Regions from separate parts of the Homo sapiens genome. Here regions 2, 3, 4 and 5 are each linked to region 1. The links come from fine-mapping of genetic effects on gene expression. A gene starts in region 1. Each other region holds a variant in brackets. All regions are shown on one strand. Distances are between the middles of the regions.

Region 1 (6,162 bases):
AATTAGCTTCTTTGAAGGGGCCCTGGCTACTGCTAATGAAAACCACTCCGGAGATTAATACTTGGGTACTGAGAGTACACACAGGTGTGCACAGGCAGACCGGGGATGTGATGGCACTCCATGGCCACTGGAAAGACAGGTGGAAAAGATGCTGTTTCCTAATCTTGTAATTATGTTCATAGTGAGATTGCTCATATAGTTCTAGCATTACTACATCCTTCTCTTTTATATGATTTTTAAGTGGATTATTTTCTACAATGTGCCTATTTAGATTTTTAACTGTTAACCCAAACTGATTATTCCCACCTCTGATTTTATCATTTTATAGATATATATGTGTGTGTGCATACATATGCATATATATATATATGTGTGTGTGTGTGCATATATACATATATATATATATATAAATAAATTTTAGGGACAGGGTCTTGCTTTGTTGCTGCCCAGGTTGGAGGAGTGCAGTGGCATGATCACAGCTTATTGCAGCCTTGAGCTCCTGGGCTCAAGCAATCCTCCAGCCTTGGCCTCCCATAGTGTTAGGATTACAGGCATGAGCCACCATGCCCAGCCAAGATCCATTATTTTGAGGTCGCCTGTATGTATCCTTTATCAAAACCTTCTTTCAAGAAAGCATCCTGTGAAATTATGTTCCTAAATTATTGTTTTCATGTAAATGTCTATTTCTCATAAAGATATTGGATATAATGATAAAATTATTGACACGAATATATTCAGTTGTGCAAATTATATTTCTTATATAACTAAATACCATTTCATGTCGATAAATTTATTGACACAAATTAATTCACATACTAGCTTCAAGAGGCCAACTGCCACCAGTGGTCAGCTGGGAAGCCGCTCTCTTCTAGGAACCATCACCGAGGCAGCTTGCCATTAATTATATACTTTCGAGTGATTTACATCCAATTCCACAAATGTGTCTTCATTAATTGAAGGCATTCTGAAATATTACTGGCAAATAGAAAGAATAGAGATGTTTGCTGATTGAAAATGTGCAAATCACATAGTAAGGCCGTGGAAGAGCCAGCTGTGGACTCATCTCTCCATTTACGAACCTGGATTCCCCCACAGAAAGGGGCCATCTCTTAGTCATTTCCATCTGCCTATGGCCAGGACAGTTTCCAGTAATAATAGGTGCTCAGTAACTCTTCTCTGAATGATGAATGGGTAGGAGGAAGAAAATGCCATGGGAATAGTGGAGAAAATCATAGCTTTCCAAATAATTAACCCAGAACCATCATCCACAGTCCACAATTTCTTCTTTTAATTTGTCTTCAGCAGTCTGAGGTAATTGGGTTTTGAGACAAATTTTAAATTGTTTCATTTCCAAAATTCGTTTGGTCACAACATCTAGGAGCAATCCATCTGCTAATCAATAAACAACATTTAAACGCTGCTGTGAGAAAGGCAAACCGGCACAAAACCAATACTGTCAGCAACCCAGAACAACTCTAATTTCCTGACAGAAATCGATTCACAGCAAAATAATGATTATTGTAAATATTTATAGTTCTAAAAGGAAACGCTCATCAATGCAGCTTTTTGAGCAGTTCATTTCCAAATAAAGATTCTGATGGGCCCCACCTAGCCATGTATCTTGTGGTGGAGGACGTGGTGGCTGTGAAGCGACTCTGTGGCTGTCTTGGAACTGGCTCTCTTGGAGGCTCTCCTGGAGGCCTGGGGGGCAGTTTGGGTACATTTTAGATGTGGTGGGGAGAGGAACACTGGGCATGGAGAGGCGAGATCCACACCTGGCTCTTCACTATTTTGCTGTGTAATCTCAGAAAGCCATTTGACCACTCTGAACATTCCATTTTCTCATCTGGAAAAGGACAATAATCATATTGCCCAACTTAACCTTCCAGATTGCGAGGATGAAATGAAGAAGGGGGAGGCTATATCTGTGAGCATATATTTAACAGACTGGACAACTTTAGGGTCTTTTCATGGTTCCGTATTTCCCAAGAACAGGGTTAAGGAGCAGGCGGGCAGTCTCCTGAGAAATCAGATGAGTCATCCTGAAGCTCAATGCCCAAGGGAGTTTTCCTCCTAAAAAATAAGTGACCCCAGAACGAAGTGTTCATTCAGTAATATGACTATGCAACAGGCGCTGAGAAAACAAGATGAAAAGGACCTATAAGGGCTGCTCAGGAAGCTCAGTCTAGTGAGGATGAACGCTGTGCAAACAGAGAAGTGGGGGATGGAGCTAGGCCAGTGAGACCAGAGCTGTGGGAACATGAAGTGTGAACTTCAGGGCTGTCCGAGAATTTCATGTTGAGCAGCAACCAAAGAGGGTTATTCCAGGAAAAGAAGAACAGGCAAAGACTAGCATTTCAGGGGAACCATGAACACAAATCAGTTTCCCAAACTTCAGTCTCCTGAAGTCTGCTTTTACACTTTTTTTTTTTGGGGGGGGGGGGGCATGTCTTTGCAGCATGTACACCATTTTAAGTTGACTGATTTTTGAAAATGTAAACGAACAATTTAAAAACTTTATATGACTACTGTAAGTGAAAAACGTTATTTGTCATGAACAGAAAATGACCTTAGAACATGGACCACATCAACTCATTACTCATGAAATAAATAACTGTCAGGCTCAGTTTGTTTCTGAGGCTAACGGGGTGACCATTGACAGAGGTAAGGGAGGGAGATAATGACAGATAGGAATGGATGCTACGTAGAAAATATGAAGTGTCTTGGAGGGTTACTTTAGATGGGTTTCGGGGGGTGAGGGTTAGGGGCTGGAAGATATCATTTGAGCCGAGGACTACAGTGTTGGAGCTAAACACCTTAACATCAAAACCAAAAACAAAGTCATTAAATTTCCACCAGACTCAGCTGCCTGCCGAAGGCTGTGCCACAAGCAGAGAAATGAATGAGCGGGTGTTGGAGGCGCGCACATCCAGTGCAGACTTGTTGTGGGACAAAAAGAGACGAGAGAGGAGGAAGTCGCCTTGTCACGTGTGATCGTAGGCCGCTCAGTGCTCTGTAGCCCCTAAAACCCAGCCGGGTGGCCCAAAGGAAAGCACCCCACGCTTCGGGAAACGCCGCAGCTTTGAGCGGGATGCAGGTTGGGAGCACCCCGATGGACACATCAGTAAACTGAGAGCAAGAAAAGTTAATTCGCTGCCCCAAGTTAGGTAGTGAGAGGTAGAGCTGGGACACGAAGCGCACCCAGAACTCTCCTTGCACGCCCAGCTCGGCGGCCCCACATGCCGCGGGTCTAGGGTCGCGCTAGCAGAGGCCTGGCACAACCGCCAGACTCCTGACCCCGAGATCCGCGCTCCGGACCTCCCGAGGGCCCCTCCCTGGGCGTGGCTCAAAACGCGGCGCAGCGGAATCCGTGAAGTGGGATAAAAAGCACGGCCTCCGACTGCGAGCATGCGCGTTAGCTCGGCCCTGCCGGGCCGCGCTCGGCGCCGGGGGAGGGTCACCCGAAGCGGACGTCCGCTACGCAGGCGTCTGCGCCCCGTGGGGAGGAGGGCGAAGACTCCATCCGCCATGTTGGATGCCGCAGATTCGCCATAACCTCGCCGGCTCTTTTCTTAAAAAAATAAAAATAAAAAGCGAAGCGTCAGCAGGGCGCCCCGCCCCCTCGGTCGGCACGGGAGGGGGCCCGGAAGAGCCCGAGGCTTTTTTTTCCTCCGCGGTGGGGCGTTGCCATGGAGACGCGGGCGGCAGGTGAGCCGGGCTGGGGGTTGGGGTGAGACGGGGTGGGGGTGGGGCGCGGCGCGGCGCGCGGAAAGCCGTTTCGAGCGTCGAGTCGGGAAGCAGTGCGCCGGCCGCCGGCCGCCGGCCGCCGGCCGCGGAGGGATCCGGGTCTGGGGAGGAGAGCGAACGTAGTTGCGTTCTGCGGCTCACGTTCAGTCGCTGGGGTATCCCGCCGCAAAAAAAAAAAAAAAGCAAGGCGGGAGCGAGTGGGAGAGCATGCGCCCGGCCGTTTCCACGGCAATGGGTGGCGTTGGGGCGCGGGCCAGCGACGGAACGCAGTGGGCGCGAGGTTCGAATCCCGGCGATGCCAGCTCTTTGACTGGACCTTGGCGGGGCTTCCTTCTTGCCTGGCCTCGGATTCCTCCTTGGCGAAATGAGTACCTCCTGCAGGCTTCCCGGCCGCCGGCTGGACCTAATAGAGTGACAGATCTTCCACTTGACACCCGGTGCAAGTCATTTAACCTTGAGCTTGGGGTCCTTCACCTGTAATTACCACAAGCTTCCACATTTGGGCACTGACTTAACACGTTTTGCTGCTCAGCTCTCTTGAGAACTCTAATTTGTAGGTCATTTATTATGAGGAACAGAAGTTCAGAGAGGTCAACTTTACACAGTTTAAAAACGACAGAGCTGGGGCTTTAAAAATTAACTTCCTCCAACTTGGGCTAAAATCCAAACTCCTGCGTGCTCGCCTGACTTGTACCTCCATCTTCTTAGAATAGGGCTTGGCTCATGTAAGTGTTCACTATATACTTAGTGAATGAAAGAACGAACGCGCTAACTGATCACGCCTGCCCATCAGTCTGGCTTTTTTTGCTGGAGTCCAAGTGACCTTTTGGAGATGCCCCGCACAGCTGCCTCTCACCAGCTTTATCTTCCGAGCCTACCAGTTCATCTACTGAAACATCTGTAGTGTGTGTCCCCATGCTGAAGGAAGTAGCGTGTCCTACCTCTAACCCCCAGGGACACCTTTCCTGACTTTAGTTCAAATAACAGCTTTGCAAGGATCCCCTCTGCACGCCAGGCAGGGGTAAAGAGCAGTCCCAGTCGTAGTCCTGCCTCCACCTGCTGCGGTGCTAGATGTGGGAGAATGTGTCCTGGAGTGACAGAGTGGGCCCAGAGCCGAATATTGGGTCAGGAGACCCGAACTATATCAGGCGTGCTTTTTTTTAATTTAATTTTTTTAATTTTTTGGGACAGAGTCCCGCACTATCACTCAGGCCGGGGTGCAATGGTGCAATCTCGGGTCACTGCAACCTCTGCCTCCCGCCCTCAGGTAAACCTCCCGCCTCAGCCTGCCAAGTAGCTGTGACCACAGGTGCGCTGATTAGCTGTGGTGCCCAGCTGATTCAGGTGTGCTGTCTTAGGTTAGCCTAAAATGAGCACCGGAGAGACTTGCTCTCCAAATACAGGTTGAGCATCCCTAATCCAAAAATCCGAAATCGGAAATGCTCCAAAGTCTGAAACTTTGAGCACTGACATGAGGCCACAGTGGAAAATTTTCTATCTGACCTCGTGAAGGTTCTCAGCAGAAATGCAGTTCCATAGCCGGGCGCAGTAGCTCACGCCTGTAATCCCAGCACTCTGGGAGTCTGAGGCGGGAGGGTCCCTTGAGTCCAGGAGTTCAAGACCAGCCTGGGCAGTGTAGTGAAACCCCATCTCTATTTTTCTCAAAAAACAAAACAAAACAACAGTTGCACAACTGTAAAGACGATGCTGTTAACACTCAGAAAGAAATGCAGGCTGAACAGCAGACTTAAAGCCAGCCGTTGTTTATTGTTCTGTTGTTTAGCAGCTGATGCATGTGTTCTGGTGATGCTGCTGTGCCGCTTAGGTACCTTGAACACCTTGTTTTTCACTGTATTAATGGTGTGTCATATTTTTTACTGGTAAGGACTTATGTGTAAATAAATGTAAGAAAGTGATTGTCTTATTGGTAGCATAGAAATTCAGAGTCGGGAATGATGGCGATGCCAGACAACCACAGATTGCCCATATGTGTGGCTGAGATAGTGACACCTTTGCTTTCTGATGGTTCATTGTACACTTTGTTTCATGATCAAAATTAAAAATATTGTAAAATTACCTTCAGACTGTGTGTATAAGGTGCACATCAAACATAAATAAATTTCATGTTTAGACTTGGGTCCCATCCTCAGGTTATCTCACTATGTATATGCAAATATTCCAAAATCCAAAAACATCTGGAATTCTAAAACTTCTGGTCCCAAGCATTTTGGATATGGGATCCTGAAACTGTAGTTTATTTGGGAATAATAGGGGATTGCAATTTAGATACATGCGCTATGCTGGATCATAGGTACGTCCAAAGAAGTTGGGGCAAATGGAAACTTTTAAAGACCCAAAAGGGAAGTCCACCTAAGCGGTTTTGAAACAAAGACCATTGGTTTCAGAGGTTTATTG
Region 2 (6,162 bases), 210 kb after region 1:
AACCTGGTATCTGCGTTGGCTGAGAAAAGATTCATACACTTCCAGGCTAAGTACCTTTTTAGCTTTTCTTGGTGTTTACTAGATTGCAGTCTTCAGATTGTCTTATAAATATCTTCTGAAACTCCTCATTTGCATCTTGACATGTGGAGTCCCCAGCTGGACCTGGTACTTTAGGAAGGGTCTCTCTGGGATGGTATCAGGAGGACTTTGAATGTTTCATACACGCAAAATCCTTTTGAGAGTGCAGGAAGGTGCTTCTGGTTGTGACTTGTGTCTTGTTTCTGAGAACTAGATTGATTTGCTGCTGCTGGGAGACATGATTTATTGAGCCTCGCAGGCAATGCAGTGATACACGAGGTCACAGGGGTTGGGTTATAGCTTAGATATGCTTTGAGGCATCAGACTGACAGCACCACAAGGGATGAGGCAGATAAGCATCCAGAACGACCAGTGTCGACAAGCTAAATGTGTTTGCGGGAGGAGAAAACAGTGCCGCCCTTCTGAGGATCTTCTTTCTTATTGCAAACACAGCAAAGAGTGGTGCTGTTGAACACAGTCGTGGGGAACTGCATTTGGAAATGTTCCCCAAGAAGGTGTATGTCCTGGCCATTATCTTGTCTGCCTGGCCCCGCACCTCGCTCACGGTGGCTGTTGATAAATGACAGAGAGGAGAGTGGGTGGACAGACTGATGGGCGGGTAGACGCTGAGCACCACTCCTATAGCAAAGGAAATGAAGTGTTTCAGGCTCTCCCAGGTGAAAGGATGCCCTCTGAATTCCATTGTCGTATAGTTTAAATTGAAATATAGCAGTATTTATTAGAAAAATTGGTTTCAACCTTTTTCTTTTAATTAAACTCTGGTTTAGGATTTTTTCAGTCAAGAAATTATATCTGCTTAATAACTGTGCTGAAGCAATGAAATGTGAACTCTGTTGCACCAGTTGGAAAGAGGAAAGCTTTTCCTCCTGTGGGAGGGACCTTGATGTCAGGGGCTTTCTCTTGCTCAAACCCAAGACATCACACATAGTAGTTGCTTAAAAAATGTTATGAAATAGAATTGACTATGTTGGAGGTTTTGATTCTTCAATTGTATCCTACAAATCAGTATTGCCGGAGAGAAAAAAGCAAGAATTCCTCATCATAAAGTATGTGATGTATATCGCAGAACAATGTTTCAGATTACTATGGGATAGCATCTTTTGAGATCTTTTTGGATCTCTTTTATATACATCTTCCACAAGACCAAAAACAAAACAAATTCTACATTGTACATAAGTTGCTTCTGGATGGTTAAACATTTCAAAATTTATTTCTCATAAACAAATAGATATATACTCTATTTACAATTTTTCATGACTTGTTAATGTTAATTGAAAAGAATCTTATATATCAAAATTCATCAATAATCACTGAAAGGGATTAATCCCAAGTCTTCTGGGGTTTTCAGCTTCTGGGATGAAAGTAATGGCAGGCCTGGTACGGGGCTGGCAGTGTTGGAGAGAAGAGAGCTGGGAAAAAACTGTTTGCTTCTTGGTCTTTAAAGAGACAAGGAAAAGATTTTGCCCATAATTGAGACCATTTAAATTCTTTGTTGGACACAGAAATCTGTCCTCAACGACTTCTTGTCACTTTCCCTCTTTTCTTGAGTGTTGGCATTAAAAATAGATTCATGGGGCCCGAGCATCTCCCAACGCTCAGAAAGAATCATGCTTGCGTGCCCCACTCCAGCCTGGCAGAAGGGCCCAGATGAGAACCTGAGTGCAACTAAATGTGTGTTTGTTAAACCTGACAGTTTTCATTAAATAAGGTGATTACTTTTGTTAGTGTTGTTAAATCTTGCGTTAAGGTTTTATGAGGAGGAAATTTGTATTTGATAAATAGAACTGCCTAAGAAGGTAAATGGAAGACAGCTAGCCGCACAGGAAATGCTATCATGAGCATCTCTGAGTCAAAATTAGTTATTTAAAGGAAAAGAAAAACCAAAGAAAATAACAGCAATAGTCATCACCAGTGGCTCATGGCTTAAATCACTGATGGATGTTCTTATGATTAAATTTTATTTTAGACTCAAAGTAACATTGTATGTATGGTTGACGGGCACTCATTTAGCAGGCATTTACTGAGCAACCACTCTGTGTTCAGTCTCTGGTTGTGTTAATTTCCTATTGCCACTGCCACAAATTACCACAAATTTATGGTTTAAAACAACACAAACTGATACTGTCTTACAATTCTGGAGGTCAGAAGTCTGCAGTGCTTCCTGTGCTAAACTCAAGGTGTCGAGAGAGCTACAGTGTTTCTGGGAAAGATTCCTTTCTTGCCTTTTTGGGCATCTAG[A/G]GGCCACCTGCACTCCTTGACCCGAGGCTCCCTTCCTCCATCCCCAGAGCCAGCAACGGCAGGCTAAGGTCTGACATCCACTCACTCTGACCTCTGTTTCCAGGGGCAAATTGCGATTGCCAGCCTTCCTACTCCCTTTTTAAAGGGCCCTTCTGATGACATTGGACCCACCCAGATAATCCAGGACTGTCCACCTGGGATGGCTTCTCTGTCACCAGCTCCTTAATGTGATCACATTTACACATTCTTCTTTGCTATATAAGGCAACATATTCACAGGCCTCAAAGATGAGGACATGGACAGCTTTGGTTGAGGGGTGCGGGCATTACTGTGCCCACCACACTGGGCTACAGAATTAAGATTGTTCCTGCTCTCAAGAGGCAAATAGTCTAACAAGGGAAATGACTTATTTTTTCATGCAACAAATATACCTTGAGCTGCTTTTACCAGCCAGTCACTGTTCTCAGCACTTGGGATATTTCAGTGAACATATCAGGTGAATGATATGGTCGAGAAGCTTACGTTTTAATTGGGGTAGATAGCCAATCCATATACATGTAATAAGTAAATTATAATAGTACGTTAGAGGCAAAAAGTACACTGGAAAAAAGAACAATCAGAACTGGTCAAGAGGTATGGAAAATGCAGCCTTAAACAGGCAGTTCCGATCGAGAGTGATGAATGCTTCAGGGAGGTGGCCCAGGGACCCAGGAGTGCTGTGGGGAGCACCAGGGGCCCGTGTACCTGGGTCTGGGGTGGGGGCAGGTGCTGAGCAGGGAGGCCTTGTGAGTGTAGGGTGGGAGCAGGGCTCCAGGCAGGAGTGGGTACAGGAGCTGGTGGCTGGCGCCAGCTGGGTGACTGGAGGCAGAGGTAGGGGTGGTGGAAGAGGGCCTGCATAGAGTAATGACTTGCCTGGTTGTAACATGGGCCAAGGATTCCAAGTCTCGGAAGTATCTCAGCCTGGTCTCTCCCTTCCGCCCTTCTGCCCACTTGGAGTCCAAGCAGTTTATAGCCTTATGGCATGTCCTAGGGCATAATGTCCTTTGGCCATGGGCTTCCTGACCTATGTTACCCTCTTGAAGTCATGTTGGCGTTTTTAACAAATGACAATTTCTTGGTTCTTGCAAATAGTGAACCTGCACTGAGCATTCCTGCCCCTTGATATTTAGCAGAACAATCAGTGCCTGTCTAAGACTGTCACTGACATTTGTCTTGGCCTCTTGTTCCTGGGTTCACCGAGCCAGCTACTGCACCGTGCCCTTTCTTCTTTCCCTGGGGGTGTTTTAAGTAATAAGTACACCTTATGATGACACAGCATCTTCTTTTTAAGAAGGTCAGGATGATTGAACAGTTTGCCTTTATGATAATCTTCGGTCTTTCTGAGTTTTGTGTTAATTTTGTATTGTTTTTACTGCTGAGGGTTTGCCCTAAACAGCAGACTGGGGGTGCTAGGGCATTGTGGGGTGTCAGCCTCTGAGGTGGGGGAGGGAGTTGGGCTCCCAGTGAAGTGGTGTGGGTCATTCGTTCATTGTACAAGTTACTTTTCAGTCCATGTGCACATACGAATGGCCAGGACACTCCCCTGTGTACAAGAGCTTACCTGATGCAGTCTTGTCCAAGTGAGGCTGTCCAGCAGCATGCACTTTACCAAGCCTGCTTCTCTGTGACTCGGCCACCATTCCTGCTTTACTGAGACCTGATAAGAAATACGTTGTGTTTGTCAGAGTTTCTTAGAGAAACAGAACTCATAGGGGTGTGTGTGTGTTCGTGTGCGTGTGCGTGTGTGTGTGTGTGTGTTTGTGTTCAAAAGAAGGAATTGGCTGATGTGACTGTGGAGGTTGACAAATCCCAATGTCTGCTGTCAGCAAGCTGGGGTCCCAGGAGAGCCAATGGTGTGACTCCAATTTGAAGGCTGGCAGGCTTAGGACACAGGAAGGGCCAGTGTTTCAGCTTGAGATCAAAGGCAGGAAAAACCAGTGTCCTGGCTTGAAGGCTGTTGGGAGGAAGAATTCCCTCCTTTTCAAAAGGGGAGGGTCACCTTTTTAATTCTATTTAGGCCATCAGCTGATTGGATGGGCCCCACCCACACTAGGGAGGGCCATTTGCTTTATTCAGTCTGCCAGTTTAAATGTTAATCTCATCCAAAAACACCATCACAGCCATACCTAGAATAATGTATGACCGAATATCTGGGCACCCATGGCCCAGTCAAGTTGACATATAAAATGAACTATTACACATGTACAAATATGTTTCAGGGTATGAGTGTCTGTTTTGTCAGTGAAAAACTGTTATTTGCTTCAAGGGTGAAATTCTCAGTTTCACAGAGACAATTTTGGTGGACAGATTTCATGGTGATTTAGTAGCTTCCAGAAAACACATCCATTGGCAGATCCGTATTTCTATCACAGCTGAGATTTTGGTTCAAGATTCAGGAATCAGCTCTATCCTGTGTATCCTTGAGAGAGTGACAGCTGAGGACTGTGCCAGCATGGCACACTAACCCCCAGGAGTCCTCCATGGAGCACCAGCACTCCACTCAATCCTCCTGGCCATGAGTAAGCAAACCATTGTTGCCACTGCCCCCATGGGAGTAGATGTCTAGTAGGAACTAGTGTTAGCAGCACTCTACGTGGCAGGCCTTTGTCTCTGTCCACATCAGGCATTTCCCCTGCAGCCCAGGAGTTGGCTGCCCTGGCTTATGAGCCTGGGGTGGGGATGGGGTGTCACACACACTGCCTGCCAGTTTTAGTGCCTCCTGGGGTTGCCCCTCTCTTTTGTTGGTTGTTTTCCTGCAATGTGCTAGATGCTTCCACACTGTGTGCTGGGGCCTCAGTGGGAAGGAGCAATTTGGACTGCCTCAGACCCATGGGCACCCACCTCTTCCCCATGAAGGCCCTTAGCCGGGCACAGCACAGAATTATTCTGCCTTAATCTTGTTCAAAATCCCAAGTGCTCCTCTGACATGCTTTAACCACTGATCAAAACGAAACAAACAGAAAACCAAGCAGGAACTCCAGCTTTGCCCAAATCACCCCACCTTCTTCTCCCAACTGCTTCTACACAACCTTTGCCACCTTCAGCCTTCAAGTGGGTCCCCGTGATGGTTGGCAGTGTTGGGAGAAGAGCAGGCAGAGCCCCCACCCTGGGCTCAGCATACAGCGTGAAGCCTGAGAGGGAGCTTAAGTAGCAGTTCTTGCTGGAAGACATATGTTGGTTGCCAGCCAGGGTTGGAATTGCTGTTTGTTATTTGCAGTTCATTGTTTTTTGCAAGAAAAGGCACTCTACTTCAGTGGAGACCATATACACCAGTTGCCTGTTTGCAAGGAAGTGCATGTCCAATCTGTCGTGTTTTAATTTAAGGCACTGAGTAATGTGGTCCCCTGACCCCTTTCTCACTGCCCATCTGGACAAGGGCTCCTGGTAGGGAGAAGCCGCTCTGCAGAAGGGACTTCTCAAGTGCAGCCTCTGGCTTGAGAGAAGCCTGGTGCCCTGTGGGCCACCTGAAGGGATGCTCAGACTGGCCTCCTCCCATCGGGGGGCAGATGTTGAACATTTTATAAGACTTGTGGTGAAATAATGAGGAGGGGGGATCTAGAAAGTGACTCTATGAGGCTTCAAAATCTATTTTTATTTTTACTTTTAAAAACAAGCGCTCTATTCTACAACTGTGATTGTAGCTACACAGCAAAAGATCTGAAAGAAGAACCACATTGGTGCAAGATACTCTTCTAACTCTTTACAGATTGTGGTGTAAGAGAGCCTGGCCATCTGAATTGTCTTAAAGTGGGACCGAGATGAGATCTCTTCTCTAATCCTAGCCAC
Region 3 (6,162 bases), 200 kb after region 1:
TTTAACAGCATGTGGAGGCATCAGTGAGTGTGGCTAGACCAGACAAAGCAGATGGAGACCTAGAACTGGAAGGAAAGAAATAAAAAGTATCTCTCTATACATATAATAGGATGATATTTTCAGAAAATCCAAAAGAATGAATGAAAAGCTAATACAAACAAAAAGCAGCAGATTAAAATATCAACATACAACAGTTAGTTGTAGATACATGTACACCTGCACATATGAATGTGTATACACATATGTGTAAATATAAGAATATGTATATGCTAATATATGCACACATATATACATACATAAAATCAGTTACAATGGAAACAAAACCCCCATTTGATACAGGAAACAAAACCAAGATAAATCTAGGCATAAACCTTATAAAAAATGCCCAAAATGTAAATATGGGAGACTATAAAACACTTCTGAAAGAGACATAAACCTAGAGTTGAGGAAATTAATGGGAATACTCAATATCATAAAGATGTTAATTCCCCTGAAAGTAATTTATACAATAATTTATCAAGGTAATATGATCTATTACATATTACATGTAATCTAAATACCATTAGATTTTTTCTGGAGCTAATCAAGTTGATTTCTAAAGTTCATTTGGAAGAGTAAGTACAATTAACTAGGAAACCCTTGGGAATAACAACCATAAGAGGAGAATCCTACCAGATATTAAAACATATTATGAAATCTCTCTAAGTGTGCATGAACAGATGGTTTAATGGAATCGAACAGAAAATTTAGAATAGACCCAATGACATATGGAAATTTAGTATATGATAAAGATGGTGTCTCAAGTTGGTAGGAGAAAGGTGGGCTTTTTGATAAGTGACACAGGATAGCTAAATAGCTATCTGAAAAAAGATAAAATTGAATCTGTTTACTATAACATATAAAGTTATATGAGAAAAATTTCAAAAGGATCAGATATTTAAATATAGAAACAGTAATATTTTACAAATACTAGAAGAAAGCATAATTGAATTCATCTATAAACTGAGAGCTCATAAATAAGTAAAAAGATAAATGATAAAAATATTTTTTTATATAGAAAAAATTAATATCTTTATAAAAGGCCTATAAAAATAGTGATGAGAAAGATCAACCCTTTAGAAAAATGGACAAGAGATAAGAAAGGTTCAGGGAAAAGAAAATGTAAATAACATCGAATATCTGAAAACATGATCAGCCTCACATGTAAGGAAAGAAATTTTCATTAAAATTAGCCCTGGATGGAATTTCTCACCTACTAGCTTGACAGAGATCCAAAAGTTTGACATTATCTCTGCTGGAAAAGCTGTGGGGAAATCTGCTCTCATACGTTGCTGGTGGGAATGTAAAATGGCCCAGCCTTATGAAGAGAATAGCAATATGTAACAAAATTACATTTGCATTTCTTTATCCATTAATTCAATAATCCAACTGTTAGGAAACCATCCCAAAGTTTCACTGGGACACTGTGTCCATACTGACATAAATAAATGATTGAATAAATAAATGTGGGAGAAGGAACTATGCATTTCCTCCAAAAAATAATGATTAATAAATGTAGAAGGAATGAGGGAAATAGAAAGTTACTATTAGAATACCACAGGAACAATCATAGCAGATGAGATCCGTTAATGAGTGCTAAAGTTAGTAGGCAAAAGTTTAAGGAGAAATGAGATATTCACATAAACTCTGAATATCTCCTTCCAAATATTTGTTAATTACAGAAGGCAAAAATAGGAACTTTATGGTGGAGGTACCACCTTCACCAAGCAGTAGAGGTTGGCATCATCAGTAATGAAGCATGCTGACATCATGTGTGACCTGATACCATGTGATCAGATGAGAAGACACTTCATCTCATGGTATTCTTAACTGAAATCTTCAACCTCAGCCTAATTATCAGAAACCATTGGACAAATCCAAATGATGGGTGTGGTCAAATACCTCATCTGTACTCCTCAAAAGCGTCAAGGTCATGAAAGATATGGAAAGTCTGAGGAACTTTCACAGCCAGGAGGAGACAACGGAGGCATGATGGCTAAATGTGCTGTGGGATGCAGAATTGGATCCTGAAACAGAGAAAGAACATTAATGAGAAAACCGGAGGAATCTGGAGAAAGCCTATTGTTTAATTAGTAATAGTATCCAAATGTTAATTTCTTGTTTTGATCATTGCGCCATGATTACGAAAGATGTTAAGATTAGGGGAGGCTGGGTAAAGGGTCTCCAGGAACTCTCTGTTGCAGCACTTTACATCTTTGGAAGTCTTGTGTAAGTCTAAAATTATTTTCAAAGTAAAGCAGTTACAAAAGATAAGAAATGGGGTCATTATATGTAGGGAAAGGAGACAGAGAGCAAGATGGAAGGGATGGGGAGAAGCTAAATTTCTCAAAATACCCTGCTGTGTAGATTTGACTCTGATTATATATAAAATATTGTAAAAGTATTTTATATAATAATAACAAAATTAAACTTAAAAAGCAAGTCTTAAACATTGTGAGTAAAATGAAATAAATTATTCTAACTGTATATCAAATTGGTGACTACGTGGAGAGGAACAATTTCAAGAGACTTCAAAACAGTTATTTGATTGGGATGTAACCTAAGGGCAAAACAAACTGCAAAAACTGCAGTTATCAAGTATTGTTGGTAGTAAGGACAATATTGTGATTCTGAGGCTGTTACTAGTGTTTAATAATGACAGCGAAACACATAAAATATGTTTAATTCTGTAAGTTTATAATGATATTTGGAAAAAACAATTCAGTCACCTTTGTAGAATGTTAGAGAATCAACTCTTTATTTTGAAAATTGGTAAATTAAGACCAAGAATCAAGCCATTGTTCTACCTTTATTTTTTAGTTTTTTTTGAGAGATAGGGTCTGGCTACCCAGGCCGGCATGCCATGGAGCCTCCCTTCATAGCTCACTGCAACCTGGAACTCCTGGGCTCAAGCAATTCTCTTACCTCAGGAGACAGTAGATAGTCCTATCTACTATCTTCCAAGTAGATAGGATTATAGGCAAGCACTATAATTTTTTGAAATTTTTTAAAAATAGAGACAGGATTTCTCTTTGTTGCCTAGGCTGGTCTCAAACTCCTGGCCTCAAGCAATCTTCCCACCCTGGCTTCCCGAAGTGCTGGGAATACAAGTGTGAGCCACCATACCCAGCCCTATTCTACCTTTAAAAACAAAACAAAACAGAACAAAACAAAACCCTATGTAAACATAACCAAACATTCGATGAGGGGAAGTTTTTTCTTTTGAAATATTTCAACTAACACATGAAAAATTAGAATATTACCATGTTGCAACCTTCTAATGATGTCATGGGTTTAGCAATGATCATCAGTTACTGCTAAC[A/G]TTACATAAAAGAGACCACCATCCAAAGCGTGTCTCCTGAAAGAACTGCCCAATATAACCCATGAAGCATTCTTTGCAAAAAGGAATCTGAATCTAATTAAGCTTTTGTATTTGTATCCAGTGACCAATTTACAGAAAACACCATGGATGGAGGAACATTGGTCAATTCCATGGTGATGCAATCAGCGAAACTTAGATTGCTGACAGCTCTCTAAGGCAAACACCCTGCTGTCTTCAACAAATAAACTACAAGGGGAGAAAAGCCAGAAATGGAGGGAGAGCATATGGATTTTAAGTCTTATGAGACATATTAATCAGTTCTAATGTGTGAACCTCATTTAGATTTGATTTGAACAAACCTAAAAAGTGAGGTAATTGGGGAAATTTAAACATTGTCTAGACCATTGATGATGTTAAGGATTTATTGTAAAGTTTTTGAGTGTGACAGGAGCATTGTAGTTCTTTTTTGGATGAGTTTTATTTTTTAGAGAGACAGTATGAAATATTTATGGGGCAAATAATGATTTCAGGATTTGCTTCAGAATAATCCTGGGGCAGGGCATGGAGTACATGGAAACATAGTCCAAGAAAGTCTGGCCATGATTCAACCTACAGAATGGGAGAAAATTTTTGCAATCTATCCATCTGACAAAGGGCTAATATCCAGAATCTACAAGGAACTTAAACAAATTTACAAGAAAAAAACAACCCCATCAAAAAGTGGGCAAAGAATATGAACAGATACTTCTCAAAAGAAGACATTTATGCAGCCAACAAACATATGAAAAAAAGCTCATCATCACTGGCCATCAGAGAAATGCAAATCAAAACCACAATGAGATACCATCTCACGCCAGTTAGAATGGTGATCATTAAAAAGTCAGGAAACAACAGATGGTGGAGAGGATGTGGAGAAATAGGAATGCTTTTACACTGTTGGTGGGAATGTAAATTAGTTTGCCCGTCGTGGAAGACGGTGTGGTGATTCCTCAAGGATCTAGAACCAGAAATACCATTTGACCCAGCAATCCCATTACTGGGCATATACCCAAAGGATTATAAATCATTCTACTATAAGGACACATGCACACACGTATGTTTATTGCAGCACTATTCACAATAGCAAAGACTTGGAACCAACCCAAATGCCCATCAATGATAGACTGCATAAAGAAAATTCAGTACACATACACCATGGAATACTATGCAGCCATAAAAAAGATGAGTTCATGTCCTTTGCAGGCACATGGATGAAGCTGAAAACCATCATTCTCAGCAAACTAACACAGGAACAGAAAACCAAACACTACATGTTCTCACTCATAAATGGGAGTTGAACAATGAGAACACATGGACACAGGGAGGGGAACGTCACACACCAGGGCCTGTTGGGGGTGGAGGGCTAGGGGAGGGATAGCATTAGGAGAAATACCTAATGTAGATGACGAGTTGATGGGTGCAGCAAACCACCATGGCACGTGTATACTTATGTAACAAACCTGCATGTTCTGCACATGTACCCCAGAACTTAGAGTATAATTAAAAAAGGAAAGACTTGCCATGATTGATAATTGCTGAAGTTGGTTAATGGACACATGGAGGTTTATTAGACCCGTCTCTCTGCTCTTGTGTATTGAAAATTTTTTTATAAACATTCTTTTAAAAAGTAAGAGTTTTGGAGTCTGACAGACTTAACTTTGAATCCTCTGTCACCTATAAACTGCTTGCCCTTGAGCCATTTTTTAACCCTCATGGCTCAGTGTTCTGCTCTGTACAGTAGGCTGATAATCCCTGAGAGCTCAGAAGCACTGAGAGAAACCATTTGTAAAATGCTGAGGCCTGAATGAGCCCCTGGAGGCCCTCAAAAATGGCAGCTGCTATGATTATTGCGGATGTTGATGATGATCACTTTTACATCTTCATCTATGCAAAAACAATTAGTCACCTAGTGTTTCAAGTATTAGTACATACTGGAAGAATTTACTCTTCATTAACAAAATAGACACTCGAGTGTCAATTACTGATGTAAAACTCAATCTATCTTGTCAGTCGGTGCTTTTATAAAAGCATGCAGTAAAGCCTCGCTTCCAGCTGATGCTAGCACTTTATGCAGAGCCGTGAACCCAACAGAAATAGTTGACATAAGACTGGGTAGTTGACTCCATACTCATCTCCATGAGATGGTGAACAGCCAGGAAGCTGCCATGAAGTGGTCACCAGTGGAGTAACAAGCCACCTCTTCCAGCAATGTGTGTGTCACCTGGCTCCCAGGAATGCCTTGCAACGAGTACCAGCCTTCCTGACAGCAACTATGACATGCTTTCCCCAGAATGAGGAGGAACCTTTCAGGTTGCATCCTGTCCTTTCACGGGCTCAGGCATTGCCTGGATCTACTGTCGGCTAATCTGTTGCCTCATGGTACTGAGAACAAAATGTTCTTCTTTTTGTTCATTTATGCATTCATTGAATATTTTTTGGGTGACTACTATATGTCAGGATGGAAACACCTAAATGGACTTGGCCAGTTGGCTGTGAAGGAATATTATATGCTATTCTGAACCTCTATGTCATTTACTGATATATGCTTATAGAGCATAACTTGGCACCTGTAGATTTTGTCTGAAGTCCTTCTTTTTGTTCTTCTTGATTGGTGACATTCATGCATCCAGCCTTACAGTTTTGCTTGCACTCTCTGCCCCTTCCAGAAAGAGATAATTATTAACATCTAGTTCTGTAAAAATTCTGTTCCACCTCTTCTCTCTTTGAGGCACGAGGTACCTGTGAATGCCACTTTAACTCCT
Region 4 (6,162 bases), 190 kb after region 1:
GTTTTGAAATCTCAGAAGCACAAAGTTCACATTGTTCTTATGTCTAGGAGAGAGGAGCAGAATGAAAGGAGAACATGAAACCAGATTAAATTACTGTTTGGAAATGTTGAATTGTTTGGAACCACTGGAATTTTTCATTTTCTTTTGATTAATTTCAAGTAACTCTCTCCATCCCTATTTGGTTTTATTTTCCTCTTCTACTCCCCCAAAAATATCTTCATGAGACTTTATAATTTCATGTTTTGATATAGAGGAAGATGTCTTAAAATAACATCATAAAAAACACAAATAACATGTATTTTTCTCAAAAGGATTTTACAGTCTCCTTTAAACCATGTGCAGGGATTCCTTGTGTATCAGCTGTGTTAAACAGTGTCACACTGTGACATGTGCAAAGCTATTGATTCCTAGGAAAGACCCTCCTGCCTGCTATGCCACAGGGATCCTGGGATTCCAGGGAGGGGTTCAGTGCACAGTGCTGCAGAGGAGGTCAGGAAAATGGCCTAAAAGGAGCTGAGGGTTCCCACATCAGATACTTCTGTTCTGTGTGGGTTTCTAAGGGAAGGTACTATGGCATTCTCCATGGAGTTTGGGTGGTTTACAGTGTGTTCCCAAAGCTTGCTGGGAAGAGTGGCTGCTAAGGCTCTTCCCAAGTAGGAGGGAGGGGAAACATGACTTGTAGAATTTGCCAATTTCTGTAGTGTAAATACTTCTACCATGGCCAAGTTTAAGCTGCTCACATGATGTCCCTCAACGTGGAGCGGGGACATGTGCACATTTGGCTTATGAGCTTGCGTATCTTGGTTCCCACGTACCTTTCACCCTGAGGGCACTGGGTGACATTGCCAGGTGTCTGCCACCAGGGCCTGTCTGGATGTACTGATCCCTCAGTACTCTGATACTTTGTAGTAATTAAGGTAGTACTGAGCACTATGTAAATATTATACTCCTGGCTTATATTTTATGTGCATCTGATGCTTTGAAGACAGATTCCTCTTAGCCATCACTTCTTCATTAATATGGATTTGAAGCATTCTCCCACACAAATGCACGTTTCATGCTGTTTAAGGAAGAAATACTTGTATTGCTTCAGTGGGCCTGCCCCTTTCCTCCCCTTAAAATACACCTGATTAAGCTAGCTCAAGAACTGGTTCAGTAAATCACAGGCTGTGAGAGGCATCAGATACTTTGGTGCTAAGCTTTATGAATCTTTTGCTCACTCCTAGAGCATGTAGCAGGGTGAGGATGGGGTTTAGTGGGCTTTCCAGTGGCTTCCAAGCCCTCCCTCAAGTCTCTCTAGGTTATTGGAATGACCACACGCTTGGGAGTCAGATGGACCTGGGCCGGGATTTTTGATCACTGTGGACCTTGGACCAGGTACTTAACCTCTCTGAATCTTGGTTTATATACCACCAAAGAGGAAGGCTCATAACCTACCTCCACAGCAGTTGCAAAGATTAGATATCATTCTCTAAGATTCCCAGAGAGTGCCGACAGTAAGTTCTTGATGAATGGCTCAAATCCACTATTACATTTATCTGCATATTTCTACTTTGAGCATGTATCTCTCAAGCGCCTACAGTGTGCCTGGAACCATGCTAGGCACTGGGACTTGGTGTCAAACAAGGCAGTCGTTGGTGGTATTATTGTTATTCCTGCCCAGGTTGCGGACCAGGGCTAGGCAGCTCCCGCCAAAGCTCTGTATTCTAATTACAGCAGAAGGAATACATCCCCTTCAGCTGTGCCCTGGAGCGGAGTTAGCTGCTTCTCCCAGAGGGCTGTGTCCCCCAGTTTTAGAGTCATTGAAGTGTAAGGGTGGGTAACTGGAGGAAGAGGAAGCAATAAGAGGAGAAGTGTCAAGGAGACGTCTTAGTATTTGGCGTCTGCTAGAATCTTTATGTTACTTTGAAGTGCTATATTAGAAAAATGTAAATATGTATGCATGTGTACCTTGGATGTATATTTGTGTATTAGTTTTTTACACCAGATTCAGGGAAAATAGCATAGCAGGAAATCCAGAAACTGTGAGGTAACCCACAGGTGATGTATTTGATTTTTAGACATCTTAATTTTAAAATTGTTTTTATTAGGGCCCAGATTCAATAAGTTCTTGGCACATGCTTCTAGTGATGTGATATAATGCTGTGTTATTGATTGTTATTTTATGTGTTAATTTATCTCTCACAATGGCCCTGTGAGCTTGGCATAATCGTTCCTATTGTGAAATAAAGAAATGAAGGGAGTGCTAATGACTGACCTCAGGTCACACCAAGCAAGCAAGTGGCCAAGCCAAACTCAGTCTCCTGATTCAACGTCTGTGCCTTTGCCACTCCCATGTTTGATGTCCCCTAAAGTTTGTAGATGTTTGCACTTATTAGAGAGGAGGAGGAGAAAGAGGAGGAGAAGGAAGAGGCGTGGTCATCTCTTAAGCAATTGGGCCACATTTGCTGGTAGTTGGTGGAAAAGTCACACACATGGATACTGTTTATTTTCTCTTATTTCTTCATCCCCGAGGCTAATTGCTAATCTGACCCAAGACTGACTCTGAAACCTATTTCTTTGCAAGTCCTTCCCTATGGTAATCCAGAGTGTCTCAGATCCCAAGATTTGGGGGCGTATGTGAGGGGAGGGGGCGGATGGGAAGACCTTGCTTATGCTCCTCTGCCAAGTGTTTCTTATTGGGTTTGGGATATCAGCTTGGCTGATAATAAAATGCACTTTGTTTCCTCTGCTGCATTTTCCCTTTTGCTCTTTTTCTTGAGGATCCTGTGGGAAGAGGGGCTGGGATTTAAATAGGATTCAGATAGTCCCAGGTAGGATCTAATATTGCATGCCATGTCACCAGGAACCCTCCACCTCAGTGCTTGCATGTGACTTCCGGTTAATTTCTACCCTTAAGCACTTCCTAGCTCTGAACTGGGGCCCTGGCTGGGCCTAGGACAGACACTGAGTTAAGAGACAGTAGGAAGTGCAAATGTCAGCAAAATTCTATTCCATATTCACTTGTTAATCTAATACAATTTTTCCATATCCACTTTCCTTGGATAATTTACCTGCTTTTGTTCCTTGTCCTTATCCGTATTCGTATCTGTCAGTGCCTGTGTTAGTTGCCTGTAGCTACTGTAACAAGTCACCACACACTTC[G/C]TGGTGGATTAAAACAACACAGTTTTATTATCTTAGTTCTGAAGGCCAGAAGTCCAAAATGAGTCTCACCAAGTTAACATCAAAGTGCTAACAAATATTCCTTCTGGAGACTCTAGGGGAGAATCCCTTTCCTGGCCTTTTCTAGCCTCTAGAGGCTACCTACATTCCTTGCCCTGTGACCCCCTTCTCCACCTTCAAAGCCAGAAATGGCCAGTGGAGCTTCTCTCAGATTGCATCTCTGTGCCCTCTCCTGCCTTCTTCTTATAATGACCCCTGTGATAGCATTAGGCCCACTCGGAGAAACCAGAATGACCTCCCCCTCTCAAGATCCTGAACTGAATCACATCGTTTTTGCCATGTAAGGTAACATGTTCACATGTTCTGGGGATTAGGATGTGGCTGTCTTCAGGGACTCATTATTCTGCCTACTGTACTCAGTGCCTTTTTTAAGAATAGGAACTTTATTGCAGTGGCTCATCTCAAAAAAAAATAAAAAATAAAAAAAAAGAATATGAACTTTAGCATCTTCACCTTCATAGAAGAGAAAACCAAGACCCAAGAGTTTCAGGAAGCTTTGGCTTACCTGAGCAAGTGCCAGATTCAGGTCTTGTGACTGCCCAACCCAGTGTTGTATGCCATTCTGGGAGTTATATTATTGAAAATGAAATTGAATTTTCAATAACGTCAAGCACCACAAAGGAGCAGAGATATTTTAATGCCTGAAACTGCTCCAGAATATATTGCATTCCAAAAAGAGCAAAGCGTACCATCATCAGTTTTTTTAAATTTCTCTTGAAATTCTATATTTTCACCTGATTAATCAGTCCGTGGGAGGAAATTGTGATTTGAGGACTCCTGGTTTTTATGGTGTGCACTTAATATCAGTGCCATGAGTAAATTCACCAAGTCTTCCGTTGACCTTTACTGTGCATTGCCTAAGAATTTAATGAATCCAAATAGAAATTAATTTCTCTCAGCTTTGATGTCAATTAACTGGCATAGTTATACATTCAGTCTAGATTACATATTTTCATTTGTTGTTCTTTAATTAAAGTCACTGTGGCAAAGGCTGAAGTTTTAATTAATGTGGGGGCATTATCATATTAAGTTTAATTTAAATATAATATAAGAATGTTTTCCTCTCTGAATTAGTTTCCACTAAAGAATATCCCAGAAGGAACCTTTAATTTCATTTTAAAGCCTAAGTTTAACCTTTAAAAGTTTGCCTTTGTTCATCATCACATATTAAGTCTTTATAGGAGAAGCAACATCAGCTTAACAACAACAACAACAACAAAAAGTGGAGGTCTTCATAACTTGGAGGTTTTTAAAAGGTGATTGAAGGAAAAGACATGATTTTATCTGATTTAAAAAAGCAATAACAAAGGAAGTTAAAAATGAAGTTTATCCTCTGGGCAAGAAAGAAGCTCATTTGTTTTTGCCTAAAAAACAGCACAGTATGTTTGACTTTCAGAAAATAAACATCCATCTGAGCTGTCTTTTCAGCAGAATATTCTAGAATTTAAGAATTTAGTGTTTGTTGCCAGTCTTTCTGCTGACAGCGGGCGCCTTCTGCCTCGGTGCCCTCCTCTGCCTCCACCAGGGTTGGGGCCAGGAAGCAGTGGGCGGAGGTGCTGGGGCTGCATGTGGCTGGCAGGTTGGCCTCTGTACTAGTGACTCTTTGGAAAATTACCCACAACCTCAGCTGATAGAACAGAAACCCCAATAATAGAACACTGCTCTGTCTTGATTCCACTGACACGGAATTGATTTGGAGATTGAGCGCATCAAAACTGCATCTGGGAGATGACTAAATGTGGGCCACATCCCCGTGAGGTTTATCTGGTATAATTTGTCCAGACAACCTTGATATCAGGACAGAATTCCTCCATTTCTTCCCGAGTACCCTAATGAGCAATACATAAACATAGCAGCCTGAGATACACTCAGTGGTCAGCTCAGCTCTTTCGTTGCCTAAGTATAAGCATCTTAGTGGTTTGTTCAGCTCACATGTATATTGGGGAGGTGGGATACTTTGGGACATCACTGGACCTGCATATCAGAGATATAGAGGGGACTGTTTGTGAGGCTTTAGGACTCCACACAGAGGATGAGAAGGCTGTACAGGGATTTGAGTTGGAGAGGTGCTTGGTAGAAGAACCAGGAGTGAGTGGTGTCACAGAAGCCCTGAAAAACTAGATCTTGACTGGAGAATGTGGTCAGCATCGCCATATAATGCAGAGAAGTCACAGTGGACAATAGCAAAGGCTGGGGTTAAGGATGTGTGTTAGACTTAGATTCAGTTCTTAACTTTGCCAGTGTGACCTCAGTAGGGTTACTTCACCATCCCAAGCCTCTGTATAAAACAAGCTAAGCATGCCTGTGTCATTGCGCTGTTGTGAAGAAACCATGACTTGATGTATGAGGTGCCTGATGCATGGTAACTGCCCAGTTAGTGGAAGACATATGTTGTTATTGCTATTAGTAGTGTTGGTGGTGGTACTAGTGGTAAGATAAAGAGTGAAGAGTATTCATTGGATTAACCAATGAGGATGTTAGCTGATCCTGACATGTGCAATACCAGGAGAGGACTGAGTGCAGGAAGCAGCATGCTATGGTGTGAGGCAGGGCTTCTCAACCTCAGTACTGCTTACAATCGGGGCCAGGCCAGTGTTTGTTTTGGGGGCTGTCCTGTGTGTTGTAGGGTATGTAGCAGCATCCCTGGCCTCTACCCACTGGATGCCCTGGGCACCCCCCAGTTGTGCCAACCAAAAGTTCCTCCATACATTGCCTGTCTGGGAGGAAAATTGTCCATAGTTTAGAACCACTGGCCTAAGTAATGAAGAGAGACAGGGAAGTGAAGAATTCATATTATTTTTCTAGTTTAAATTTATAATCTTAATTTCAGTAATTATTTTGAATAGGGCAGTTACTCTCCCATGGAATAAAATTTGAAAGATGGAGGAGATGTGAATGCTGGCCTCCTCCACTTGCATCCCAGCCTGTTGTCCACCCCAG
Region 5 (6,162 bases), 940 kb before region 1:
GCCATTTCATGTCTTGGTTGACACCCTCCTCTCCCACCTGTATTAGCTTATTATGTCTTCACATTTTCTCCTCCCTTCCTGGCTTGCAAGATTTCGACTTTCAAAACTCCATTCAGGTTTTATTTCTTCCTTTGTCCTCGGAGCAAGTTCATCCCTTTCTCCTCTGCACCATCCCTGCCCTTCTCTAGCCTTTTATTGCTGCAGAGTGCCAGGGACACGGTGGGCGTCTCAGTGTCACCTGCATAAAGCATCAGTACTGCTAGGATGAATCAGATGCAAACTGTTATTTAAAGGTGAATCCTCTAAAAAGTTAAACATCTAATACAGTAAATCTATTGATGAGGGCATTGCCTTAATTAACCAATAAATATTTCTTGAATGGCTTGTGCTGAATGCTTTCAGGTTTATAAAATGTGACAGACACACCTGTGACCCTCAAGGAGCATACAAGGGATGAAGGACATTTACACAGCACCATCCCATCAACCGGCAGGTCAGAATGAGACATCTGCCAATCCAGTCCTCTCAGCCAGGATTCTCATGCGGAGAGAAGAGAAGGCTCTTTTGGCTGAGAGAGATAAAAGATCTTGAAGAAATGGGAGGATCTGGATAACCAGAGAAGAAGAGAGGGTGGGCAATGAGCCCGTGCAGGGGAGTGCTAGAGGAGATCCTGTCTGTTTCCTCAGAGAGCCTGTCGGCCTCTCCTGCTACCCTGGTGTGGCCACCTTACTTTCCACAAAGCCTGCCCCACCACGGGCCAGCCCTTAACAATACACTTGCTGATGTAAATAAGCTCCAGGAATGTGAGGAGACCAGCAGGAGTCTGAGGAAGGGTCGCAGGACTTTCAGCTCTCCCCATAAGACACAGACGAGTGTCCAGGAGGTGTCCTTACTGGACCCAGCACGCCCTGCATCTCTTCGCTAAATCACACAGGGTAACCAGCCTGCCACATGCCAGACGCCATGCTGTGTATAAAAGACCATTTTAAACCAACTTTTGAGCAGATGAGTTTCTGGTGTGGCCACAGGAGCTAATCTTATAGATCATAATGAATACATGTAGCATTTAGATAGGTTTCTTTTACAAAAGCATATGAAGATGCACCATGACCTCTATGGGAAACATCTATAAAAGCCCAGTAGGTCTACTTTAAAAATTCATTCCACAGATGTTTATAAACATGGCTTCTTGCATTGCCTTTAATGTGAGCAAAATATTAGAAACTAACTACATCTCTGTCAGTAGTTGTTTGGATTATGGCTCTTTCATATAAATATTCAGCCAATAAAAAGAAAAAGGTAGCTTTCTAGTATAAAATAACAGAAAATGAGCTCTAAGACATACTTCAAAGTGAAACAAGGGGAGAAAATGGTATATTGTTTTCTATGTAAAAAATAGTGATAATTTAAAAAAATGCTTTACTTATGCACAGACTATCTCTGGAAAGATACATGAAAATCAATACAAATAGTTACCTGTGGGTGTGTGGGGGTAAAGGTGGGAATTAACACCATTGTGTGTATATATTTTGTACCAAGCACATGTATTACTGACTAAATAAAGGGCATATTTTGGTTTTCCAACTTCGCATTTATCATTGAAAAAAATCTAATGGTTAGAGAAATATCACACTTCCACTAAGAAAACAAATTAATACAAATGCTCCTCATCTTAGGATGGGGTTATGTCCTCATAAACCCACTGTAAGTCAAAAACATTAAGTTGGAAATGTATGCAATACACTTAACCTACCAAACATCATAGCTTAGCTTAGCCTACCTTAAACATACTCAAAACACTTACATTAGCATACGGTTGGGCTGAATCATCGAACACAAGGCCTATTTTATAATAAAGTTTGATATCTCAAGTAATTTTTGAATGCTGTACTCAAAGTGAAAAACAAAATGGCTCACTGCCATTGCCTGGCATGGCAAGAGTATCATACCACTATGGCTAGCTGCAGAAAAGATACATATTCAAAATCTGAAGTACAGTTTCTACTGAACATGTACTACATTTCCACCACTGTAAAGGGGAAATGTTCTAAGTCAAACTATTGTAGTAGGGACTGTCTGTACTGAAAAGTGCTCAGTGTCAGTGTTTCAAGAATTACAGGTTCATTTGTTCACTCATTCGTTCCTCACTGAACACCCTGTCAGTTCCCACTATGTCTATGTGCCAGGCAGTGTGCTAGGATTTGGAAGTACAAGTCCAATAAGACATGGTTCTTCTATCTTTAAGGAACTTCAAGTCTTGCAGTCAGGGAGAAAAACCCACCAACAAGCAGAACAGAAATCTAGCCTCAGGATAACACCACCATCCCCGCACACTTCACAATGGTACCTGTTTGTTTATTCTATCTCCTTGTTTTGACTGTCTGTTAGGTACTAGGACCTGTGTTAGGCAGCAGACACACAAATCCCGCCAGCAGCAGTTCAAATGAGATAAACACACAGGACAGAACTTAATAACCTGGTAAGTTCTCCTCAAATGAAAGGATGACTAATTTAATCGAATAAGGCCAAACAAGACCTAGTACATTGTCCTGTACTATCAGCCACTGAGCTACCACATCCACTTTATTCACTCATACATCCAACGACTTGTTCATTTACCACTTACTAGGCATAAGGCATGGTAATTGCCCTAAAGATATTTACAATCTGGTGGGAGGAAAGGAGGGT[A/C]AACAGCCAATCTCAGGATGCTGTATTGCAGAATTCATAGAGCAAGATGAGGGTCCATAGTAGAGCTGCGAAGATGGCAGGCTAGGGAGGGCCTCCAGGGTGAGGGGATGCTTCAAGCTCCACTGGGAAGTCTGGATAGGCCAGCAACAGCTAGCTAGACCAAGAGCTGGGTAAGAGTTGTGTTCATTCATTTGTGTGCATTTATTTGAGTGGGGTACGGAACTGTTACTTCAGGCAGAGAATGGCACTGATAGAAAAGCTCTAGATGGTTTTCAATCTATCAGGGCTGGACCACAGTGGGCTGGGGTCAGAGCATGCTGTGCTCCAGGCGGCTGGGCAGGCCAGCAGCAGAATCACACACGGCTTGAGGTTCAGAGCCAAGGAGGCTGAGCATTATCCTGAAAGTCACCGAAGGACTCATCACATTAAGATCTGAAAAATGATTTCAGCAATGGATGCTAATCACTGAAATACATTACTGAGATTTTTGAAACAGGAATGTCAGTCAGAATCAACTTCAACTGGACGGGATTTTCCATCGATAAGGGAGGGTGAAATTCAGATTGAAAAATGATCTGTAGCCTTTCCCAATCAGAAATAGAAACAGAATCAGGCATAAAATAGACTGTTATTTTAAAATAATGATGGATTTTTTCCTTTCTGTCCCTACAAAACACTGAATATCAATATAAATAGTAGATATTGTTTGCACAGAAAATAAACTTTATTCCTTAAATTTGTCACATATTCTATAAAATGTCTCATATTTTCATTTAACTTTTGACTCTACAATTTTATTTTTTCTTCAAATCATTAGTTTTACATTCTGGAACCTGTCTCTGTATACAGTGACCAGAGTCTTTCATTTTGAGTTAAACAAGGGAGCTAGACTATCTAAATTATAGTATCGTTAACATGACTGTGTGGGTTTTTTGGGGTCTGGGCTAACCGTTCCTAACACTGCCTGTTAGGAATCATCTTGCTCACAGTGACAATACCATTCACTTACTAAACCCTTACACTGTCAAATAACTATGTGAAGAGATGGGGACAAGAGGATGAAAAAGTGAGAGCAACTATTTTTTAAGGCACTGTAAAATCACTAACCAGTGGAAACAGAAGCTTGTAGAGTTCTTTTTGGAACACAGACTAAATGAGGCACTATATCTGCCCAAGGGAATGGAGTAGGCCAAGCTTAAAGGCAAAGAGGATACTACACTTGAAAATGGTTGCACTGAATTTGAGCTTCTTAGCAGAACCTACAAGACCCTTCATTACATGTCCCTTGTCCTACCCAGCCAGCATGGTCTCTTACTTTCTCTAATTATCTAATATACCTGAAGTTTCCTCAATGATCATGTTTTCTTATAATTGCAAATATTTACATATAGCAACCAATGAGTGAACACCTTTATTTGTCCCAGGCATGCTTCTAATCTTCACAGCAATACTAAGGTATCATGACTATGATATTTTATATATCATATATATATATAAATATATATATAGACTATGTCTATTTTATAAGTGGGGAACCTGCAGTTTAGACTCTTGTTTAGAGAGGTTAACTTACTGACTCAAGGTCACAAAGCGGGTGAAGGGCAGAGCGGAAGTATGGATGCTCTGAGAGTACCTGCCCTGTGTGGTTATCTTCTATTGGTCTTAATATCTCCATGGGCCCCTTCTGCTACCTCTGACCAACTTGCCTGGGTTACACATCTCCCTTCCATGTGCCTAGAAAGCACATGTATCTCTGTCAGAGCTTTACAGACGTGGTCTTTGCCCATTTCCCCAGTAGACTGTGGCACTTGCAAGGACAACAATGATGTCTTTAATCACTGTCTTCCTACCATCTGCAACACAGCAGGTGTTCAGGAAATATATCTGAGTAAATAATGATACTGACTTGACTTGGAATACCTGAGTATAAGAAGATTCAGAACCTAAACAAGTGAAAGACTCTCTCCATGAAGGAATCTGGTGCAGGGGCGGGGTAGAGAAAGAGAAGGGGGCAGTTATCACAATGCTCAGTGTTGTGTGAGATACTCTCTGGGATACAAGGTAACACAAATTAAAGGCTTCTGCTCTTAAAGAGCCTTTAATCTAAGGGAGGAGCCACTGTAATATAAAGAATGACAGTATAACAACATGGTTAAGATCAAAGACTCTGGATTGAAGTCAATCGGTTCAAATCCGGGCTCTACCAGTTATAAGGTACATGAGCAACATAAGTGTGAAATTCACCTCCTGAAGCTTAAATTTCTTCCTTTTTAAAAATGTAGATGATACCTTCTTATGGCTGTGAGGATTCAATAAAATAATCTACAGAAAGTGATAAGCACATGCTTGGCTTTTATGGCAACTTACAACCAATATGTGTCATATGATACCAATACTAAAATGAGGAAATATAAACCAAGCATGCTCTTTAGAGAGGGTGGAGGATCACAGCCTGATTTAACTGGTGAGGACATCATGGAAGAGAGGGCATGGGGCTGAGTTCTGAAGGACGGGTATGGTTTCTTCATGCAAAGATACAGGCAATAGCAAAGTTGTGTGTCATGGGGCTGTCACCTCCATTCGGTTTTGCGGTATTTGAATACCGGGTTCCATGTCTTATCAGTCTTTGTATGACCAGTGCCTCTGTTGTGTCCAGTATGGAGCTCATGTTCCATATATGCTGCCATATGAGAAAATAAATGAATTCCAAGGGGGTGAAAACAAAGGTTAGGGGGAAGCGATTTGGGAACAATGAAATGTGCTCTTAGAGACGTGAGAAGACTGGCTTATCTATAGCAGGGTCTTCCCATGGAAATAGAAAAAAATCAGGTCTGGTGGAGCATCAGCCAGATAAGAGAAGATCTCAAAGGCCAAGTAGGAAAGTTCCTGTCGGATAGTGATCTGGGCCTTTCTGGGTCACAATTCCTTTTACAGTCTGATAAAGCTATGGAAGCTTTGAAAAAATGACAATAAACATAAAATTGTACAGTATTTCCTGTTAATTAACTCTGAATAGCACCTGAGGATTGACCCTCTACCTCTCCATAATTCTTATTATTCTGTATGCCAACTCCTTAAAAAAATTATTTAATAAAGAAAAAAATTGTGAAAAATTTCAATAACATCACACACTACAGAGATGTGGTGGACGTCACATTCCCATTCCGTACAAGAGAAAAACGAACAACAACAAAAATCCAAACAGACAAACAAACAGAAAATACAATAAACTTAGTTTGGTCTACAAAAATGATGAGAATTATTTTCTTTCTAAAAGCAATTTAATTATTTCAGGCTAATTTTGGCTATTAGGGAAAAAACCAAGCTCACATATTTTTCATATATATTAAATATGTGAATACAACTTTGACAATTAAACTTTACATGATTGTATCACTTTCAGGTTACAAAACACTCTGATGATATTATCTTAATTCTTCTAACAACTGCATGGGATAAGCATCATTTTCACTG

Evidence for each region. PIP is the estimated chance that this variant, and not a neighbour inherited with it, causes the effect. A credible set is the group of variants that fine-mapping cannot tell apart.
Region 2: its variant is the best candidate, but not a certain one, in a credible set for the expression of ZFAT in subcutaneous fat (TwinsUK, PIP 0.52).
Region 3: its variant is the best candidate, but not a certain one, in a credible set for the expression of ZFAT in esophagus muscle (GTEx, PIP 0.85).
Region 4: its variant is the best candidate, but not a certain one, in a credible set for the expression of ZFAT in tibial artery (GTEx, PIP 0.81).
Region 5: its variant is the best candidate, but not a certain one, in a credible set for the expression of ZFAT in subcutaneous fat (TwinsUK, PIP 0.82).

Annotation. Positions count from the first base shown.
Region 1 is chr8:134,710,391-134,716,552 of GRCh38, reverse strand. It overlaps ZFAT (zinc finger and AT-hook domain containing), which reads left to right and starts at 3,522. Exons shown (of 16, transcript NM_020863.4): 1 at 3,522-3,708. The coding sequence starts at 3,690. RefSeq lists an enhancer at 3,511-3,690.
Region 2 is chr8:134,501,888-134,508,049 of GRCh38, reverse strand. All of the region lies in intron 15 of ZFAT (zinc finger and AT-hook domain containing), which reads left to right. Among named protein-coding and RNA genes, the nearest start is that of ZFAT, 210 kb to the left of the region's middle. The variant A/G (reference allele first, on the strand shown) is at 2,338.
Region 3 is chr8:134,513,562-134,519,723 of GRCh38, reverse strand. All of the region lies in intron 13 of ZFAT (zinc finger and AT-hook domain containing), which reads left to right. Among named protein-coding and RNA genes, the nearest start is that of ZFAT, 200 kb to the left of the region's middle. The variant A/G (reference allele first, on the strand shown) is at 3,362.
Region 4 is chr8:134,524,323-134,530,484 of GRCh38, reverse strand. All of the region lies in intron 12 of ZFAT (zinc finger and AT-hook domain containing), which reads left to right. Among named protein-coding and RNA genes, the nearest start is that of ZFAT, 190 kb to the left of the region's middle. The variant G/C (reference allele first, on the strand shown) is at 3,145.
Region 5 is chr8:135,649,324-135,655,485 of GRCh38, reverse strand. It overlaps a transcript of KHDRBS3 not described here. Among named protein-coding and RNA genes, the nearest start is that of KHDRBS3, 190 kb to the right of the region's middle. The variant A/C (reference allele first, on the strand shown) is at 2,689.